Linked DNA regions of Homo sapiens: region 1 is linked to region 2. The links come from fine-mapping of genetic effects on gene expression. A gene starts in region 2. The other region holds a variant in brackets. All regions are shown on one strand. Distances are from middle to middle. Region 1 has its middle 71 kb from the start of SEMA6A. Region 2 holds the start of SEMA6A (semaphorin 6A).

Region 1 (5,376 bases), 71 kb before region 2:
TTTTTCCTTGAGTTGGCTACTGTTGGTCCCAGAGACATGCAAACAGAGCACCCTGACTATAAAATCAGCCTGGCAACACGAACAGATCTGTGCAGTCACAGGGAGGTAGACAGAGGAAATCACGGAAATCAAACCGTTTGATTACCTGTTAATCAACTGCACAAGAAAAGCCAGAATAGCCCAGGATAAATGAGCCAATAATAAGTATACAGCCACCATACTTAAAATTTCTCCCCTTTGCGGCCAGGCGCGGTGGCTCATGCCTGTAATCCCAGCACTTTGGGAGGCCGAGGCGGGTGGATCACAAGGTCAGGAAATCGAGACCATCCTGGCTAACACGGTGAAACCCCGTCTCTACTAAAAATACAAAAAATTAGCCGGGCATGGTGGCGGGCGCCTGTAGTCCCAGGTACTCGGGTGGCTGAGGCAGAAGAATGGCGTGAACCCGGGTGGCGGAGCTTGCAGTGAGCCGAGATTGTGCCAGTGCACTCCAGCCTGGGCAACAGAGCAAGACTCCTTCTCAAAAAAAAAAAAAAAAAAAAAAAAAAATTTCTCCCCTTTGGTTTGGTAAGTCAACAAAAGTTTAAACAATTAAAGGAAAAAATAAAAGCATGAGTGTTGTGACAACAAAAATTAGTTTTAAAAGTAAATTATAAAAATCATATATAGTCATGTGCCCATAACAATGTTTCAGTCAACAACAGACTCCATATATGATGCTGGTCCCATGAGATTATAACACCATATTTTTACTGTACCTCTTCTATGCCTCGATATGTTTAGATACACAAATACTTACCATTGTATTACAATTCTCTGAAGTATTCAGTACAGTAATAGTTTATATCCTAGGAGCAATAGGCATATACCATATAGCCTGGGTGTGTAATAGGCTATACCATCTACGTATGTAAGTACACTCTATGACAGGGTCCTCAGCTTCTGAGCTACAGACTGGCACTGGTCAATGGCCTGTTAGGAACAGGGTTGCACAACAGGAGGTGAGCAGCGGGTGAGTAAATAAAGCTTCATCTGTATTTACAGCCACTCCCTATCACTCGCATTACTGCGTGAGCTTCACCTCCTGTCAGATCAGTTGCAGCAATAGATTCTCGTAGGAACGCAAACCCTGTTGTGAACTGTGCATGTGAGGGGTCTAGGTTGCATGCTCCTTATGAGAATCTAACGCCTGATGATCTGAGATGGAGCTGAGGTGGTGATGCTAGTGCTGGGGAGTGGCTGCAAACACCAACTAACATTAGTAGAGAGGTTTGACTGTGCAGACACCATAATACGTCAATTGTTTGCAGACTCATATCAAAACCCTATCAGTGAGTGACAAGTGACAATTAAACTGCATCTGGTGCCAAGCTTTATAGTTGCAAGTGAGTTGATGTACTTCAATTGTACAGCTGCATCTAGTGGCAGGGTTTAAGTCAGAATCTGACACTTATTTTAGTCCACGCGTGGCCCACCCATTATTTTATTTGCCATTTCTGTTCATGCCTCTTTCTGCACTGTGCACTTGTCTCAGTCACAGTTTTGCTAAGTCCACAAGATAACCCTAGCCAAAATGAGTAAAAAGCAAATATCACTGGAGAGCTTCTTCCAAAAGGGGGAAACACCCAATGATGAGACAGCAGAAGACTCTAAGACTGCCAACAAAAAGAAAGCTGCACTTGACAATACCAAGAGTCCTCCTTAAAGTATGGGTTCATTGCAACAGGTGATTCACATTCTCCAAACCTGCTTTGTATAGCGTGTGGCAACCAGCTATTCAATGAAGCCATGAAACCTTCAAAACTGCTTCGCCACATAGAGACCAAGCACCCTGCATTAAAAGACAAGCCTGTGGAATTTTTCAAAAGAAAAAAAACTGTGAACACAAAGAACAGAAGCAATTATTGAAGGCCACCATTTCATCAAATGTGTCTCCACTGAAAGCATCATTCTTAGTGGCTAACCACATTGCTAAAGCTAAGAAGCCCTTTACTATTGGTGAAGAGTTGATCCTGCCCACTGCTAAGGACATTTGTTGTGAACTTTTAGGAGAGGCTGCGGTTCAAAATATGCCTTGTGTTCCTCATTCAGCTAGCACCATAACTGGATGAATTGATGAAAAAGCAGAGGATGTTGAAGCACAATTGTTAGAGAGGATTAATGAGTCACTGTGGTACACATTCCAGGTTGACAAGTCTAGCAATGTTGACAACAAGGCAACAATGCTTGTTTTCGTGCAATATATTTTTCAGGAGGATGTGCATGGGGGTATATTATGTGTGCTTTTGTTGCCAACTAACACCACAGCTGCAGAACTATTCAAGTCTTTGAATGATTACACATTAGGAAAATGGAATTGGTCATTCTGTGTCATTGTATGCATGGATGGAGCAGCTGCCATGACCAAACAGCTTTCAGGTTTCACTGCTTGGTTCAAAGAGGTTGCCTCTGAATATTAGTCTATGCACTGTGTCATCCATAGAAAAATGCTGGCTAGCCAAAAAATGTCACCTGAACTTAACAACATTTTGTAGGATATGATTAAAATTATCAACCACAATAAAGTGCATACGCATAACTCACATCTGTTTGCACAGCTCTGAGAGGAGATGGATACAGAGCACACATGTCTTCTCTTATACACAGAAGTGAGATGGCTTTCTCAAGGCAGATCACTGGCCAGAGTTTTTTAGTTATGAGAGCCACTCCAGAGATTTCTTTTAGAAAAACAGGCAACACTGGCAGCACATTTCAGTGACACAGAATGGGTTGCAAAACTTGCTTACTTGTGTGACACATTCAACCTGCTCAACGAACTCAATCTGTCACTTCAGGGGATAACAACAAC[AACT/T]GTGTTCAAGTCAGCAGATAAAGTGGCTGCTTTCAAAACCAAACTGGAACAATGGGTTGATGAGTGAACTTTGGGATTTCTAACATGTTTCAAACATTAGCAGAAATTTTGAAAGAAAGAGTCTGAGCCAAGGCCTTCTTTCTCCCAGCTGGTGCGTGATCACCTATCTCAGCTTTCAAGAGTTTGAACGTTACTTTCTGTGGTGATTAATATTAGGTGTCAACTTGATTGGATTGAAGGATGCCTGGATGATGGGTATTGTTTCTGGATGTGTCTGTGAGGGTATTGCCAGAGGAGATAGGCATTTGAGTCAGTGTATGGGGAGAGGAAGACTCACCCTCAATGTGGGTGGGCACCATCCAATTGTCTGCCAGCGTGACTAGAACAAAGCAGGGGAAGAAGGTGGAAACACCTTGCTTGCTGAGTCTCCTGGTTGCCTTCTTTTTCCTGTGCTGGATGCTTCCTCCTGCTCCTCCTGCGGTTGGACATCAGACTCCAGATTCTTCAGCCTTTAGACTTTGGGACTCACACCAGTGAGTGCTGGAGGCTCTCGGGCCTTCAGCCACAGACTGAAGGCTACACTGTCAGATTCCCTGGCTTGGAGGCTTTTAGACTTGAACTGAGCCACTACTCACTTCTTTCTTCCCCAGCTTGCAGATGGCCTATCATGGGACTTCACCTTGTAATTATGTGAGCCAATTCTCCCTAATAAACTCTCTTTCATATATAGATATATCCTATTAATTCTGTCCCCTGGAGAACCCTGATTATACGCTTCCCAACCATAAAAGACCCTGAACTGGGAAGGAATGGATCCATCACCCATTTGTGAATAAGCCAGGGGAATTGACTTTGTCCGTTGTAGAAGAGGACAACTGCTTGAGATTGCAAATGGCGGTGCCCTTAAAAGTATGTTTGACGCAACTTCAAATCTTCATACGTTCTGAATTAAAGTCGAGATGGAATATCCTGAGATTACCACAGAAGCACTGAAAAGTCTGCTTCCATTTCCAACATCCTATCTTTGTGAAGCAGGGTTTTCTGCAGTGACAGCAACCAAAACGAGATTATGGAGTAGACTGGACATAAGCAACACACTTCAGGTATCACTGTCTCCCATCACCCCCAGATGGGAACTGTCTAGTTGCAAGGAAAGAAGCTTAGGGCTTCCACTGATTCTACATTGTGGTGAGTTGTATAATTATTTCATTATATTACAATACAATAATAATATAAATAAAGTGCACAATAAATGTAATGTGCTTGAATCATCCCAAAACCATCCCCCTCCCCTGCCCCAGTCCATGGAAAAATTGCCTTCCACAAAACCAATGCCTGGTGCCAAAAATGTGGGGGACCACTGCTCAAAATGATGAAATTGCCTAACAATGCATTAATATGTTCCTGTTGTTTAGATAGATGGATAGATAATAGGCAGATGATAGATAGATAGATAGATAGATAGATAGATAGATGATAGATATAGATAGATATCCTACAAAGCTTTTTATGTGACCATGTAAATAGTATTGTTAGTTTTATATAAAATGTGTACTGGTAACTCTGCTAATGAAGTTGTCAACTTTTTGTATGAAAGTTAGTTACTCTCTTCAAAAGCTAGGTTCTGCTAAGTTGTATTTGATGGTGCTGTGTCATCTCAGAATCAAATCACAAGAAAGAGCTGCATTCCAAAATCTTTGTAAATGCTCTGGAATCAGATAGACATCTAGAGATATTTCTACAAAAGAATGTTCAATAGCCAGAACATCAAATGCAAAAGGGAAATTCAAAAAGTTTCCTACGCAATTGAGAATACAATTACCCAGGCTCATTTAATATTACACTTTTTTTACATCTGAAGTTAACTTGGCTTGAATGTTCTCTCTTTCAAGAAATCTTCTGTTCTGGTTACTATTGTTACACGGCAAATCACTTCACAACTCAATGGTGTAAAACGACCATTGTATTATGCTCATGGATTCAGAGGGTAAGGAATTCAGAGTGTGTAGCAGAGATGGCTTGCGTCTTTTCCATGATGTCTGGGGACTGAGCTGGGAATACCTAATGGCTGGGGTGACTCAAGAGCTGGGGGCTAGAATCATGTGCAGGTGCCTTCTTCACATGTCTGCTGTCAATGCTGGCCATCAGCTAGGACCTCAGCTGGGAATGTCAACCAAAGCACCCACAGATCACCTCCCTATGTGGCCTGAGCTTCCTCAAAGCATGGTGGCCCCAGAGGAATTGAATTTCTCACTTGATGGACTTTTTACCTGATGTCCCAGTAAACAGGGGGAGACTTGAACCTCTTTTTCTGACTTAGCCCCAGAAGTTAAAAGCGTTATTTCTACTGTGTACTGTATTGGTTACATATGAGTCACAAGCCCATCCAGGTTCAAGGGAAGATATCAATTCCAACTCTCAATGGTAGGACTACCAATGTCTCATCATAGAAAAGTATGTGGGATAGGAGATATTCCATCTTTGAAAACTACAATCTCAAATCTTCCCAGATTCCCCATCTCCAA
Region 2 (5,376 bases):
GGGACTTCACAGAGATAAGTGACTTGCCCAAGATCACCAGCTAAGTTACATTAACCGCAGATGGCCTCCAGAGACCAGGGCCTCAAACACTCCATTTTACGTCACTTTAAAAAAAACCACTGAAGTCACCTTCTCATCACTCTGTGATTCTTTAACTCTTTGGCTTTCTTTTCCTGAAGGGACAGGGTATAAATTGCAGACTTCAAAGGCTTTGAAGGGGCAGTGGTTTTACTGAAAACTTACTGCAGGCTTCTGGAAGTGAGTCTGAGGCGCACTTATGGGGAAATGACATCATGAGGTTTCATAGCCTGGCTTCCCCACAGGTGCTCCCCTGGGGGTTTCGGGAGCCTGACAATAGCTGGCTTTTCTTCCAGCTCCGGGAGCATCTTTTCTGGCAGGTGGAAATGTAATATCACGTGGTCAGAAGGAAGGGCTCCTACTTGGATGGTGAGACTAGGATCTAGTAATTGCCAGGAAGATTCTGGGTGGTATTTCTTCACTGTGAAAAGTAGACTCCAATTCTTTAACTCTCGTATTCTATAATTTTAAATTAGGTAAATTTAATCGCTCGCTTCTTGGCTCAGCGTTACTACAAATTAAACATGCAAGTATTAATATTGAATATAATGTCCCTTTAAACAATATCCTGAAACTCGTTGTGGGGCATTTCCAATATATCCATAAAGCAAATAAAACAACTTAATTGTTTGTTTCTCTAAGGGAAGGAGCTAAACCCGAAATTAATTTAGTTCGGCCTGTGAAACAATTCGTTTGCTCTGCCTAATTCTGCCAATTTAAGAACTTTTCCCAGACACAATTAGCATGTAAATCGGCGGCGGGGAGCGAAGAAGGAGCCTCGGCGACCCCGGTTGGGTGGAGCGCGGGACAAAAAACCCCGGAGGCCGAAGGGTCCGGAGCTTCGAAGGGGCTGCAGTACCGCGCCTGGGGCGCACGGACGAGCCAGGGGACCAGCTCACACTGACCCTGCAGTCATCAGCCAAAATCTGGGTGTTAAATAGCGCAGCCGGGGATCCAGCCGTCTTGGCCGCCAGATCCTTCTCCTAACCCCGCGGGATTCTGAGGAGACGTCCTGGAGCCGGCCCCCACCCAACCCGCGGGAAAGCGCAATCCTACCCACCGCCCCACACTCCCCAACCCCCTCCCGAGGCTGGCTCTTGAAGCCGCGGGGGCTGCGCGCGCACCTAGGGCCGCGCCCCCCACTACCCCAGGTCTATAGAGGCCTTTGCCCGAGAAAGGTGGGGATAGCGGCCCCTGCTGACAGCTCTGGAGAACAGCAGGGGTACTGATTTTTTCTTTTTTTCCTACCATTCTCCCTACCTTTTCCAGGTGGTGGTAGTGGTGCGGGGGGAATGGGTGTTGACCCATGTGCATTTATTCTTCGTGAAGCCTCTTAAGCAGATGTCTGTACTTAGAGAAGCGACCAAAGAGGGAACGTGGACTTATTAGTGGTCTTAGTCCCAATTAGGGAACAGGTACAGTTTCCAATATAAAGAAACTCGGCCTAAGTGGGACTGAGACCCCGATCTCCGCACTTGCTTTTCTCAGCCAACTCCATGACTAGTAAATATCTCTCCGAGAACTGCTGGGCCGCCCGATGTTACTTTGTTTAAAGGTTGCGACTAGGATCCGTACCATCTGCGAAGCCCCCTTGGGGAGCAAGAGCCGCGGCGCGCAGTTGATTTCGGGGCGCAGCGGCAGGGGGAGGGGAACGTGGTGTGGCCCGACGAGTTGGCACAAGCCTGTAACTGCAAGACTTTGTAGCTATTGAAAGTTCAAGTGGTGAAAGAAGGCTGTGCCTGCCATTCTTCATGTGATCATAACAATAGCGCCTTGGAAGTGGTTGCGATTTTCTTCTTCCATAAACCTTTTGGGTTCTCACTGGAATTGTATGCGTGTTATTTCTGAAGTTTACTTATTTCTAAGACCAGTCCACAAAATGTGAACTTCATTAAGTTTTAAAATAGATCGCCGTCGTTAAAAACGCCATTCTCTGCACTGTAGTTTATTTGCTTACTTCACATGCTTTATTAACGTGTGTATGTGCGTAATTAATAGCTGTGTTCTTATCTTCCAAGTGTATTTTTAACCGCACCGGCTTCTATCCAATTCATCTAACTACGTAGAGCGTCCATCGCTTCTGGAATCTACCTCTTGATAACAGTAATCAGAATCAGAAAAGCTCGCCGTTCACTTACCCTCATCCTTTAAAACTTTTCCATTTAAGAAAATCGATGAACAAAACCTTTCTTGTAACTCGCTCCTGCACTACGTCTATTTTTATTTATTTTTCTGATTTGGCAGGACTCAGCAATGCTGTCCGGGATTTTTTTTTTCTTTTTTTTTTTCCTAGCTAGAGCAGATGTGGGGGTGGGGGAGGTGAGGGCTGGGCTCCAGCCAGAGTCGCCCCCGCTGAGCCTCCGCCTAGCGCGCGGTGGGGCCAGGAATCCTGGTGGAAGGAAGCGGCGCTGGCCAGTTGGTCCAAGGCTCCACCTGCAGCCACACCGCGTAGTTTCTCCGCCTCTGCCTCGCTCACTCGCACTCACATACACCACAGCTCTCCTTTGGGTCGGAGGAGACGCCAGCCAAAGTAGGCGGAGTTGCGGAAGGAGAGTCCGATCTGCGCAATCCAGTCCGGGACTTGGCTCCGCCCGGGAGCGGCGGCCTCTCCGGTGACAGAGGAGTAGTGAGCGGCACGGGGTGAGGCTGCAGCCAACTCCGCTCCCCGCGCACTCGGCTGCCCAGGCGCTCGGAACCCAGCAGCGGCGCTCCTCCGCGGTGCCGGTCGCCCGCGATGCCCGCTTAGCAGCGTGTAGCAGCGGCCAGCATCACCACACCCGCGGCACCGCGCTGCCGGCCGCAGAGCCGGGCCAGAGCCTTGCACCCCTGCCCCAGCCCCCACCCCGCCCCCCGCCCTGAAATGACTTGTTAATCGGCGCAGACACCACCAAGGGGACTCACCGAAGTGGAATCCAAGTGGAATTTGGATTTGGAGAAGAGTTTCTTGAACATTTACCCTCTTCCTTGTTGGTTTTCTTTTTCTTTTTCTTCTTTTTTTTTTTGGCTTCTTTTTTCCTCTCCCCTTCTCCGCTCGTCATTGGAGATGAACACATCGCGTTTGCATCCCAGAAAGTAGTCGCCGCGACTATTTCCCCCAAAGAGACAAGCACACATGTAGGAATGACAAAGGCTTGCGAAGGAGAGAGCGCAGCCCGCGGCCCGGAGAGATCCCCTCGATAATGGATTACTAAATGGGATACACGCTGTACCAGTTCGCTCCGAGCCCCGGCCGCCTGTCCGTCGATGCACCGAAAAGGTACGCCCCGGGCGCCCGGGCGCGCCCCACCTCCCGGGCAGCTGGACTCCAGCCTGAGGGTCCCGGGGCCGTGGCTAGCGCGTGCTGTCGGCTTTGTGGTGCCTGCGTTTTATTTTGTCTTGTGTCTCTGTTTCCCGAGCCTTGCCCGGTCCTGGGGGAGCAGCCGTGAGCCCTGCCTGCCTTTCCTCTCTGCCCTGCGCCCCAGAGTGCGTCCGGCTCCACGTCGAGAGCTTTCCCACCCGCGTTGCGCACACGCCCGGCGCCGCCCCGGGCCGCGACGGCGCGTATGGCTGTTCCTCCTGGGGGTGTGTGTGCGAGACCCAAGGCTCATCCTCCCGCGTGCCCAGCAGGGAGCAGAGCGGGCCCTAAATGGTGGGATTCTCGGAAGCTCCCTGGCCCGGTGTGTCGAAGGCAGGGGAAGGGGTTCTGCCCTCGAGGGCTGGAGGGGGTTGGGTATAACAGCGCTGTTTTCGTCCAGTGCCAGGTGGGAGAAGGGGTTCCGCGGAGACGGTGTGGAAGCGGAGAGAATCTTTTGTTGTCAGTGTGGGGTCTGGGCTGGGCTCCGTGGAGTGCAAGAAACTTGTAATGGCTCTAGGCACCCGCGCGCCCTGTCTCTCGGTGAGATCCTGGCTCCTGTGGCCGCTGCCACCAGAGGTTCCGGGCTTTGTTTGCTCGAATAAGTGTCCGGGAGCAGCCGTTCGGGTGACGCGGCGCCCCCGCCATGGGTCCTGTCCCCCGCCGCAGCTCCCAACCCGAGCGGCAAGGATATAGCCCGTCGCGGCTGCGTCCCTCCTGAAGCACCGAGCCCTTTGCACCGGGCTGGCGCACGGTACGCCCTCCTCCCAGATCAGCGCGGTCTCGCTCTGGAAAGATGACCCAGGAGGGGGAAGGGTGAGAGACCTGGCAGAAGATGGCCCTGGGTTTGAAACCCAGACTAGGGCTCTGTTCCGACTCCTCACTGTGTCCTAGGGCGCTACCATGGGGGCAATGGGGCGCTGGAGAGTAAGCCGGGCAGTGCCCACCCACCCTGCCTGATCCTTCTGGGGCGGGAAGTGTCTCTTGTCCCGATTCTCCGCGTTTTGCTCAGCTCCTCGCTGTGGGAGATGGTGCAAAACAGGATCCTGAGGTCTCCTCCCTCCTCGCAAGACCCGAGCGGCACGGGGGGAGCCAGGGAGCGGTCCCGGGCTTGTGGACGTCGGGAAAGGAAACAGAATTCCGCTGTTTTTCCCGCTCCCTCGCCGCCCCTCCGCCCAGCGCCTCCTCCCACTTTACAGCGGCGGGGTCACTAGACCAGGCGCTCCTGGAAAGTTTCCCTGAAAGCCAGGGGCGGCAGGCACGACCGGACTGGGGCTCAGCATGTGCAGTCTGAGGGAAGCCGGACCTGGAGGGAATCATGCGGACAGCTCGGGATGCAGCTAGGAGCTAGATCCCGGCCCTTTGGAGAGTGGAACCTCCTGGCCCGCGGTACTTGCTCGACAAGTCGGGGAAGGGATGAATGGGGAAGCAGGACCCCGGAGGCAGGTGCGGCCACTGTGGACAGAGGCTGTGGGGAAGGTGCGTGTGGACACAGGCCGGGGCTCAGTGGCTTGCAAGTAGGCAGCTTCAGGTGCAGAATCCCGAGCCATCTGCTCCCTGCGCACGATTTCCCAGCGTGGCTATCCAGGGAGGGAGGAAGCAGAGCCAGGTGTGCGTGGAGCGGGAGAGGAATGGGAGACTGGAGGCGCTGTCTTCACAGCCGGGGCAAGCACTTCCAGGGAGTCTCCGGCCTGTATCGCACTGGGGAGCCCTGCAGGCTTTTTCGCGTCGGTCTTTGGGAGAAAGGTGGCTGCTTTGGAACTGCGGTGGCCAGGCACAGCCACAGTGGGATCGCTCCTTTTTTTACGCTCAGCTTTTTTACGCTACTGAATGCGATCTGTGAAAGGTTTAAAACACAGGCGTGCATGGACACACACACGCACACACTCGCCCTTGTACGCACAACTTTCTTTACCTCAGATCTGAAAAGCCGTTTAACCCACTTGCAGTGTTGTGCCAGCAGGTCT

What was found. PIP is the estimated chance that this variant, and not a neighbour inherited with it, causes the effect.
Region 1: its variant is the best candidate, but not a certain one, in a credible set for the expression of SEMA6A in cerebellum (GTEx, PIP 0.88).

What each region holds. Positions count from the first base shown.
Region 1 is chr5:116,642,737-116,648,112 of GRCh38, reverse strand. No RefSeq gene overlaps it. Among named protein-coding and RNA genes, the nearest start is that of SEMA6A, 71 kb to the right of the region's middle. The variant AACT/T (reference allele first, on the strand shown) is at 2,849.
Region 2 is chr5:116,572,143-116,577,518 of GRCh38, reverse strand. It overlaps SEMA6A (semaphorin 6A), which reads left to right and starts at 2,696. Exons shown (of 19, transcript NM_020796.5): 1 at 2,696-3,334. SEMA6A-AS2 (SEMA6A antisense RNA 2) reads right to left here and starts at 3,101. Exons shown (of 3, transcript NR_147170.1): 1 at 2,980-3,101. RefSeq lists a silencer at 2,861-2,940 and an enhancer at 4,638-5,376.